3 linked regions of the Homo sapiens genome follow. The protein of the gene in region 2 interacts with the protein of the main gene of each other region in a pairwise test. Each region holds a gene or a part of one and is shown on either strand. Other genes may lie near its edges. The genes, in order: HUNK, ZBTB44 and ETS2.

Region 1 (3,651 bases), on a different chromosome or scaffold from region 2:
AGGGAGGTTAGCCTCTGAAGGACCTGGGGTTGGGGGCTTGAGTGGGGGAAGGGGGTGGCTGGAGTACCTGGAGAGTGATAGAATGCATGTCCCAGGGAGTGACAAGACATGCCAGGAGGGAGAGCTGGGAGGAGTTGGGACCGGGTGGTGGTGGGGCTGATGGAGAAGATGCTTGGGTGCTCCCATAGGCAGCAGTGAGACCTCAAGAGCTTCTGCAAGAAATCAGAGTTCTAGACCCACTGATTTGGAGGCAGAGTGTAGAATGAATTCAAGAGGCCAGGAGGAGCCTCAAGAAGAGGTGACATCCATGCCTTAGTTCACCCTGGGGGTGGCCAGACTTTTATTGATTCGTTCACTATTTTGTTTAATTTAAAGTTTGCCTTTAGTTTGGACTTTTTCCCTTTTTTGTTTTCTTTTTGTTTTTTAAGGTTTTCTTCAGCTTTATTGAGGTTTAACTGACAGATAACCGCGTGTGCTTATAGTATGCAGGTTATGATAAGTGAGCATGTTGTGAAATGGTTACCATGGTCAAGCTCATGGACATGTCCATTACCTGACAGGGTTATCAGTTTTGTGTGTGTCTTGAGAACATTAAAAAATCTCTCAGCAATTTTCTTTCTTTTTTTTTGAGATGGAGTTTTGTTCTTGTTGCCCAGGCTGGAGTGCAATGGCACAATCTCTGCTCACTGCAACCTCTACCTCCCAGGTTCAAGCGATTCTCCTGCCTCAGCCTCCTGAGTAGCTGGGATTCCAGGCGTCCACCACCACACCCAGCTAATTTTTATATTTTTAGTAGAGACAGGGTTTCGCCATGTTGGCCAGACTGGTCTCGAACCCCTGACCTCAAGTGATCCACCCGCCTTGGCCTCCCAAAGTGCTGGGATTACAGGCACAAGCCACCGTGCCCAGCCTCTTAGCAGTTTTCTTTCTTTTTTTTTGAGACGGAGTTTTGTTCTTGTTGCCCAGTCTGGAGTGCAATGGCACAATCTTGGCTCACTGCAACTTCTACCTCCTGGGTTCAAGCGATTCTCCTGCCTAAGCCTCCCGAGTAGCTGGGATTCCAGGCATCCACCACCACGCCCATCTAATTTTTGTGTTTTTAGTAGAGACAGGGTTTCACCATGTTGGCCGGGCTGGTCTTGAACTCCTGACCTCAAGTAATTCACCCTCCTCGGCCTCCCAAAGTGTTGGGATTACAGGCACGAGCCACCACGCCCGGCCTCTTAGCAGTTTTCAAGTGTGCAATACATTATTGTTAAGCCTGGTCACCATGCTGTACATTGGATCTCAGACTTCTGTTTTTTTCTTTATCATGAACTATGTCCACAAAATAATATTTGAGCCCCTCACTGAAAACATGTATTCATCTGTATTTATTTACTTATTATTTATTTCTGTACTTGTACCTCTGTGTATGGCATATTGCATATAATGCATATTGAGTGCGTTGTGAAACAGGTACAAAATGTAATTACAAAAAAGAGAAATAACAAGAAATGGAAGGTCCACTGACTTCATCCTGCACCCGGAGGCTCCATAGCTGTGTATGAAGGTGTTCCTGGGATGCTCATGTCTCAGTTCATGACAGGGCATCTGGGCACTGGGGCAGTGGTTGGAATGAACCAGGCGGGTGGTGTAGGGGAACAGAGAGGAAGGACAGGTGGCGAGACAGCTGGAAGAAGACATTGACATCATGTGTTGACGTCAGTGGCTGATCACATTAGAGAGGGGAGTGAAGAAAAAAGAAGGAACAGGGCAGCCGGCGTGGTGACTCACGCCTTTGACGCCGGTGCTTTGGGAGGCTGACAAGGAGAATCACTGGAAGCCAGGAGTTCAAGACCAGCCTGGGCCACATGGGGAGATCGGTCTCTACAAAAAGAAAAAAATTAGCCAGCCGTGGTGGTGTGTGCTTATAGTCCCAGCTCCTGGGAGGCTGAGGTGGGAGGATCACTTAAGCCCAGGAGTTTGAGGCTTCAGTGAGCCATGATTGCACCATGTACTCCAGCCTGGGCAACAGAGAGACTCTGTCAAGAAGGAAAGAAAGAGAAAAAGAGAGAGATAGAAGAAGAAAGAAAGGAAGGAAGGAAAGAGGAAGGGGAGGGAGAGAGGGAAGGAGGGAGGAAGGGAGGGAGGAAGGAAGGAAGGAAAGAAGGAAGGAAGGAAGGAAGCGAGGGAGGGAGGGAGGGAGGGAGGGAAGGGAAGGAAAAGGGTGAATACAATGGAGAGGTGACTTCCCCTAAAGGAAAGAGGACTGGGGACAGATGCGGATTTGGGTGGAATAGACAATCTTCCCTTCCCTCTGTTCCTCCATCCTTCCTTCTGTTCTTCCCTCCCTCCCACCGTACCTCTTATGACAAGTTGATTGTAGGGGCAATGGCCCAGGAGGAGCTTCCTGAGGGTAGTAGAAATGTGATCCTGAGTAACAACAAAGGTTGGGTCCTGACAGTGGGGGCCAAGTTTCCCTAGGAGGCAATTCATCAAGGGAAGGAGGTAGACCCTGAGGCTTGAGGGTGTGCACAGGGCAGGGCGGAGCGGGGGCGGGCAAGGCTAGGGGTGCTGCATCTTTGGGCAGTGTCCCCCAACCATGCCTTGGAACTAAGATTGGGGGAAGATTTAGCTGTTTCTGAAGTGGCTGGGGGTCCTCAGACCTGGAGGGAGATGATGGTGAGTCCTGAGGGGGACTGGGACAAGCCCTTTGCTGGAAGAGAAATTGTTATTTCATCTTCCCATCCTGTAGAAAAATAAATTTGACATTAATCCTGCACTGTGCCTTCCAGACAGCCATTCAGGTTTTCTTAGGTAAATTCCATTGTCTTCCTTAATAATTGGACCTTTTGATTTTTCCTAATGTTGTACCTATATGTGTGTGTGTGTGTGTGTTTGTGTGGTATATGCATAAATATAAATGTGTATATATATATTTTCTGTTGATGCTGTTTTAGGTAAGGTGTTTCTCCTCTGCAGAGACATAGCTAGCATTTTTCTTGGGTTCCTGTGAGTAGCCAAGGCATCGCTATTGTCTGTAATGTCTGATAACAGGCATGTTCTTGTTTTCTCCTTAGGTGGCCATAAAAGTCATTGATAAGAAGAGAGCCAAAAAGGACACCTATGTCACCAAAAACCTGCGGCGAGAGGGTCAGATCCAGCAGATGATCCGCCACCCCAATATCACTCAGCTCCTTGATATTTTAGAAACGGAAAACAGCTACTACCTGGTCATGGAGCTGTGCCCTGGGGGCAACCTGATGCACAAGATCTATGAGAAGAAGCGGCTGGAGGAGTCCGAAGCCCGCAGATACATCCGACAGCTCATCTCTGCCGTAGAGCACCTGCACCGGGCCGGGGTGGTCCACAGGTAAGGGCCAGGCCACGCTGGTGATCGCTGACTGTGTGCTCCGTGGGTGGCACTGGGCTGTGGCACCCTCTGAGCCTCTGAGAAAGGCTGAGCAATTGCAGCCTGTTTTACAATTTGTCTATATTTTAATTTTATTTATTTGTTTATTTTTTTGAGACGGAGTTTTGTTCTTGTTGCCCAGGCTGGAGTGCAATGGCGCAGTCATGGCTCACTGCAACCTCCGCCTTGTGGGTTCAAGCGATTTTCCTGCCTCAGCCACCCAAGTAGCTGGGATTACAGGCACCTGCCACAATGCC
Region 2 (3,651 bases):
CCTAGAAAACCCTCAAGATTCATTTGAAAAGCTCCTAGATCTGATAAATGAATTCAGTGAAGTTTCAGGATACAAAATTAATGTACACAAATCAGTAGCACTGCTATACACCAATGATGACCAAGCCGAGAATCAAATCAAGAACGCAATCCCTTTTACAACAGCTGCCAAAGAAAAATTAAAATACTTAGGAATATACCTAACCAAGGAGGTGAAAGATCTCTACAAGGAAGACTACAAAACACTGTTCAAACAAATCATCGATGACACAAACAAATGGAAACACATCCCATGCTCATGGATGGGTAGAATCAATATGGTGACAATGACCTTACTGCCAAATGCAATCTACAGATTTAATGCAATTCACATCAAAATACCATCATCATTCTATAGAACTAGAAAACACAATTCTAAAATTCATATGGAACCAAAAAAGAGCCCACATAGTCAAAGCAAGACTAAGCAAAAATAACAAATCTGGAGGAACCACATTACCTGACTTCAAACTACACTACAAGGCTATAGTCACCAAAACAGCATGGTACTGGTATAAAAACAGGCATGTAGACCGATGGAACAGAATAGAGAACCCCAAAATAAAGCCAAATACTTACAGCCAACTGGTCTTTGACAAAGCAAACAAAAACATAAAGTGGAGAAAGGACACCCTATTCAACAAACAGTGCTGGGATAATTGGCAAGCCACATGTAGAAGAATGAAACTGGATCTTTATCTTTCATCTTACACAAAAATCAACACAAGGTGGATCAAAGACTTAAATCTTAAGGCCTGAAACCATAAAAATTCTGGAAGATAACATCAGAAAAACTCTTCTAGACATTAGCTTAGGCAAAGAATTCATGACCAAAAAACCAAAAGCGAATGCAACAAAAATAAATGGGACCTAATTAAACTAAAAAGCTTCTACATAGCAAAAGAAATAATCAGCAGAGTAAAGAGACAACCCAAAGTGGTAGAAAATTTTTGCAAAGTATGCATCCAACAAAGGACTAATATCCAGAATCTACAAGGAATACAAACAAACCAGCAAAAACAAACGAACAAACAAAAACCACCAATCCTGTCAAAAAATGGGTTAAAAAAAACATAGACAATTCTCAAATGATATAAAAACAGCCAACAAACACATGAAAAAATGTTTAACATCCCTAATTATCAGGGAAATGCAAATTAAAACCACAATTAGATACTACCTTACTCCTGTAAGAATGGCTATAATTTAAAAATTAAAAATAATAAATATTGGCATGACTGTGGTGAAAAGGGAACACTTTTACACTGCTGGTGGAAATGTAAACTAGTACAACCACTATGAAAAACAGTATGGAGATTCCTTTAAGAACTAAAAGTAGGCTGGGCACGATGGCTCACACTTGTAATCCCAGCACTTTGGGAAGCTGAGGTGGGCGGATCACCTGAGGTCGGGAGTTCGAGACCAGCCTGACCAACATGGAGAAAACCCACCTCTCCTAAGAATACAAAATTAGCTGGGCGTGGTGGTGCATGCCTGTAATCCCAGCTACTTGGGAGGCTGAGGCAGGAGAATGGCTTGAACCCAGGAGGCAGAGGTTGCAGTGAGCCGAGATTGCGCCACTGCACTCCAACCTGGGCAACAAGAGCTAAACTCCACTCAAAAAAAAAAAAGAACTAAAAGTAGAACTACCATTTGATCCAGCAATCCCACTACTGGGTATCTACCCAAAAGAAAAGAAGTCATTATGTGAAAAAGACACATGTACACACACTTACAGCAGCACAATTCACAATTGCAAAAATATAGAACCAACCTAAACGCCCATCAAACAACGAGCAGATAAAGAAAACGTGGTATATTTACACCATGAAAACTGAATGAAATACTGGCTTTTGCAGCAACTTGGATGGAGTTGTAAGCCATTATTCTAAGTGAAGTAACTCAGGAATGGAAAACCAAATATCGTATGTTCTCACTTATAAGTGGGAGCTAAGCTACAAGGACGCAAAAGCATATGAAGGATATAACGGACTTTGGGGACTTGGAGGGAAGGGTGCAAGTGGGGTGAGGGATAAAAGACTACACATTGGGTACAGCGTACACTGCTCAGGTGACGGGTGCACCAAAATGTCAGAAATCACCACTAAAGAACTTATCCATATAGCCAAAAACCACCTGCACCCCCAAAACTATCAACATTCAAAAAAAAAAAAAATCAAAGAACAAGCAAAAAAAAAAAAAATTATAGTTGAATACCTGAATAGCCATACCTAAAGCCCACCATTAACATTCTACTGTAGCCCGGGTGTGGTGGCTAACGCTTGTAATCCCAGCACTTTGGGAGGCCAAGGTGGGCAGATCACAAGGTAAGGAGACCAAGACCATCCTGGCTAACACGGTGAAACCCCGTCTCTACTAAAAATACAAAAAAATTAGCCAGGCATGGTGGCAGGCACCTGTAGTCCCAGCTGCTTGGGAGGCTGAGGCAGGAGAATGGCGTGAACCCAGGGGATGAAGCTTGCAGTGAGCTGAGATCGTGCCACTGCACTCCAGCCTGGGCAACACAGCAAGACTCTGTCTCAAAAAAAAAAAAAAAAGTCTACTGTTATTGTTTTATCACATACCTATCCATCCATCAATCCATCTTGATTTTTACTCTACTTTTAAAATGCCTTTTAAAGTAGTATCTAAATGCAGTTTCTGAAGCAAGGGGTCAGAAACTCCCGCACCTATGAGAAAGGAAAATGATATACAATCATGCGTGGCATGTGTCCCTCAATGATAGACCACAAATACCACAACCGTCCCATATTATAATACCATATTATTTTTGAGACAAGAGTCTCATTCTGTCGCTCAGGCTGGAGGGCAGTGGTGCAATCTGGGCTCACTGCTGGAGGAATCACATTACCTGACTTCAAACTATACTACAAGGCTATAGTTACCAAAACAGCATGGTACTGGTGTAACCTTCCAGGTTCAAGCAATTCTCCTGTCTCAGCCTCCCAAGTAGCTGTGACTACAGGTGCATGCCACCACACTTGGCTAATTTTTGTATTTTTAGTAGAGACAGGGTTTCACTATATTGGTCAGGCTGGTCTCGAGCTCCTGACCTTAGGTGAGCCACCCGCCTCCGCCTCCCAAAGTACTGGGATTACAGGCATGAGCCACCGTGCGCAACCCTGTAATACCATATTTTTACTGCACCTTTTCTAGGTTTAGATATGCTTAGATATACATATACTTTCCACTGCATTACAAAAGCCTACAGCATTCAGTACAGTAACATGCTGTACAGATACGTGGCCTAGGAGCAACAGGCTATACCATATAACCTAGATGTAGAGTAGGCCATACCATCAAGTTTTGTCTAAGTACACTTTATGATGTTCATACAATGACACAATCGCCTAACGACGCATTTCTCAGAACATATCCCCGTTGCAATCTCTGAGGTTGTTACAGCATCAGTCATGTAGTTCCGTATTCATGGTGACTGAAAATTTATTCAATTTTTATGACTTGTTACATTTAGTTGTGAGGTGGAGCAAAGCAGCTAAGTGCTAACTCTAAACAGCCTTGAATTTGAAACCTGGGTCGGCCACTTATTGTGATACTCTAGGCAAGTCATTTAATGCTTTTAGATACCAGT
Region 3 (3,651 bases), on a different chromosome or scaffold from region 2:
GGAGCAGCTGGTCAGGATGGGCTTCCCACTCAGTCCACGAGCCTGGGGCCGGCTCAGGGTGGTCCCGGCGACCTCAGTCCTCCGTGTCGGGCTGGACGCCCAGGATGGCGTGCAGTTCCTCGGGCGTGAACCCCAGCAAGTTCTGGAGGTCGCACACGAAGCGGTACACGTAGCGCTTCCCCGACGTCTTGTGGATGATGTTCTTGTCGTAATAGTAGCGTAAGCCCCGGCTCAGCTTCTCGTAGTTCATCTTGGGCTTATTTTTCCTCTTTCCCCACCGGCGGGCCACCTTTGGTGAACATGGATGGAAAAGAGTTAAACTCAATTTGTCAATGAAGAAAAAGTGAATGACATTCCTCCCTGATTATGATTCTGAGGCATGTTCACTCTAGAGAGAACTTGACACCTACACAAGGTCCGCAGGAGGACCTTTTGAGTACCTCTGAGTACCTTTGAGTACCTATGGTAGGGGCACTGTGTCCCCAAGGGGCAGAACCACTGGGGAATGAGGTCCCTGCTCCCTGGCCCCAGCTCAGTGAAACCTCCTGGGAGCCAAGGGTTCAGAGCCAGGAGGGTCCTGAGACCAGGGAAAGGTGGTGTCACCCACCCTCCAGGCTGGATATTCCAACTACTGAAGTTAACAGGTGCCGAGTGGGATTCTGAGCTGTGTGATATACTCATTCCTCAATGCTTGTCTCCCAAGGGAACTGGAGGCGGGGTGGGAATGGTGACAGATTACGCTCCCCAGTGCCAGAGACCAAGGGCTTCTCTCTAACGCTTTTCTGGCGGGGTTGGTATCCCACCTGCCCTTGGCCTTCTCCTTTAGACAGGGCTCCTGGTTCTAACTCTGCAGGGCTGGGGTCAACACTGCTGGGCTCAGCTAAGGAGTGGACAGAAGGCTGGCTCGGGGCCACATGAGGCTTGTTCCCCCGATGGACAAGGGCAGCCTTCCTAAGGCATTTTCAGATGGTCAGCAGAGAACCTCAGTTTGCAGCTTGGGCCTCTTGATCAGACAACTGATCAAGACAGTGAAATCTGTGCAACGCCCTTGTATGAAGCATACCCAGAAAACACTGTACACGTTTATCAACAAAGCAATGACTCCACTTCCATTTTCCCAACAGCCAAGGATGCCTCACGTGGAAAGATTCTCAGCAGTACTGGTGAACCCTTTTTTGTGCCCAAAGAACTGAGTTTTTGAATGCAAGCAGGAAATCAGGTTTTCAAGCCCAGAGATTTCCCAGGGCTCTGGCCATACCTCATCGGGGTCGGCGAGCTTAAACTCCCATCCGTCTCCAGTCCAGCTGATGAATGACTGGCAGGATTTGTCTGATAGCAGCTCCAGGAGAAACTGCCACAGCTGAATAGGTCCACTTCCTGCGGGGAGAGGGAGGGAGACGGATCATACCCTTTCACAGATGTAAAATACAGCAAGTCTTTAACCATCCTAATTGTACATGCTGATTTAGGAATGCAGACCCAACTCTCTGAATGGGGTTCCGATGTTACACTCAGGGTGGCACTCAAGGTGTTGGTGACAGTACTAAGTGCTTTAACGGGATGGGGCGGGGCACCAAATGTGAGTTCCTGCTCCACACTGCCTACTCCTAGAAAATAAGGTCACTAGGCGAGACACTCTTCCCCTTGATTGCTAGGTTTGTTCTTTCTGGAAGAAAGTTTAGGGCCACCAACTCTTGGCATTAAAATTCCCCATCTGGTTTAATTGTTCCTTATGTAAAAACCTTCAAGGTTTTTTTCTAGAAACACCCAGTGGGGCAGAGATGGGGGTGGCTGAGGGGGTGTTTCATCACAGAATGAGGCGTGTCATACGTGGGATCCCATGCCACCTTCCTGCCAAATGACCATGTGTAAATTGCTTAATGTGAGCCCGGTTTACTCAATAGCCACGCGGGGTCACACCCGTTGCCTCACAGCCTCTGTCTGGTGAAGCATGCTTTGCCAAGAGCTTCTCGTCCACCTGTCCTCGATTGACATTTAGAACTACCACCTTGCAAAGCAGGTGTCAGTGTGGTTCTGTTCTAAAGAGGAGGGATAAGATGCGGCTCAGAGGCCAGGTGCCTTGTCCTGGATCACACGCCCATCACAGCAAACAGGAGAAGAGCCTAGATCTTCCGACCCTAAGCCCAACCTCTTTCTACCAAATAGCTCTTCCTCAGAAACGCAATGGCCGTTATCAATAAAGCTTTGCTGTAAAGCACGGGACAGGCATTCTAGAACCAGAGCTGTGTGAGCACCGATAGCTGTCTGCCTGTGAGCCAATTTCCCCATCTGTAAAATGGCCTCATACCACCCCCATGCCAGGCTGTCCTACAGACTGTATGCCTACTTAACTACAGAGTTGGCAGTCAATAAACAGAAACTTATGTTACTATTAAAATGAACCACACTAACGTTATGGCTGTTTATTCTTCTCAGGCCCTAAACTCCCAATAATGAAACCGATAATGGCTTTCACACACTCTTTCCGTGTATTTTAATACGTTTACGTGGCTGATTGTTCTTAGATGACAGAAAAAGAATGAATGCCTCAGTATCCTTATTTTAAACTTATCAGATTTTTTTAAGTTAGGTAATTTCAATCCACAGTGGCTCCATATGGTTAAAAAAACAAAAACAAAAACGCATTTAAGGATACACGAAGCAGTGAAAACAAAGCCCCAGTATTTTCGCTAAAGTACTGGAAATACCTGTTTCTAAAAACAGCTTTATATTTGTCCACTGCCTAGAATAGCTCTCACCCAAACCTCAAAAATAAGAGCAGATAGATTTTAGAAGCAAGAAAAGGTAAACAGTGCCCATATTATTTGAGACTGGCTCTGCTGCCCCTCCCTAAGCCAGTTTACATTCTTTGAGATTCTTGGAGTGGGTGAGTCAGGGCTGAAGACTGCACAGGCCATGTCCCCTGCTCCAACTATTCCTCAGAACGTCCCAGGTGGAGGGAGTGGCCTGTCAATTTTCACTCATTCCATGGAGCTCTGTGTACATGAAAATTCCTCCAAGTGTGGCTTTTGTCGAATTCAGAGATACAGCAAGCCACGCATAAAACATGGAGTGTAGAGCACTGGTGTACCTAGCTTAGAAACACCCTCGGTGAATGTGGTACTGTGGCTCGAAAGGAAGCAAGGGACAGGACCCAGGAGACTGGGCGGCCAGGCTCTCGGAGTTCCACACACACCTGTGAAGCCGGCCAGCACAGCTGCAGGTATAACTGGTTTGCCTTGCTCCACTGGGTCACTCCTCTCTTGGATGTAATCCTTGAAAGACATGGTTGGCTTATTGAGGCAGAGAGACTGGCTGCAGTCATCTTCGAAGCTCTCGAAGGAAGGAACCCGTTGCACATCCAGCAAGGACGACTGGCTGTTCCAGGACTGGAGGAGGGAGTCTGAGCTCTCGAAGCTGTCCGCACCGTTCTCAGGGGAGTCGTGGTCTTTGGGAGTCCCTGGCAAAGACAACCAAACACATACTTTGATTCCTCCAGGACACAGTTGGTCTTGGGCACGACCATAGCATCACCAACCACTACCAGTGCAATCATGCACCTGCTGGTGTAGAACCACTCAGACTTCTCAAAATGCTCTCTACTCAGGTGCTTATTCCTTAGGGTAACTATACTACACAAATCCTATCTTC

What was found.
Region 1: the proteins of ZBTB44 (region 2) and HUNK interact in a two-hybrid assay, tested with the Homo sapiens proteins (one large-scale study listed by BioGRID and IntAct).
Region 3: the proteins of ZBTB44 (region 2) and ETS2 interact in a two-hybrid assay, tested with the Homo sapiens proteins (one large-scale study listed by BioGRID and IntAct).

What each region holds. Positions count from the first base shown.
Region 1 is NC_000021.9:31,921,406-31,925,056, forward strand, and holds part of HUNK (hormonally up-regulated neu tumor-associated kinase), read left to right. Parts: intron 1-3,062; coding exon 3,063-3,355; intron 3,356-3,651.
Region 2 is NC_000011.10:130,304,845-130,308,495, forward strand, and holds part of ZBTB44 (zinc finger and BTB domain-containing protein 44), read right to left. Parts: intron 1-3,651. UniProt on the Homo sapiens protein: May be involved in transcriptional regulation.
Region 3 is NC_000021.9:38,819,312-38,822,962, reverse strand, and holds part of ETS2 (protein C-ets-2), read right to left. Parts: intron 3,461-3,651; coding exon 3,197-3,460; intron 1,378-3,196; coding exon 1,259-1,377; intron 290-1,258; coding exon 74-289; 3' UTR 1-73. UniProt on the Homo sapiens protein: Transcription factor activating transcription. Binds specifically the DNA GGAA/T core motif (Ets-binding site or EBS) in gene promoters and stimulates transcription.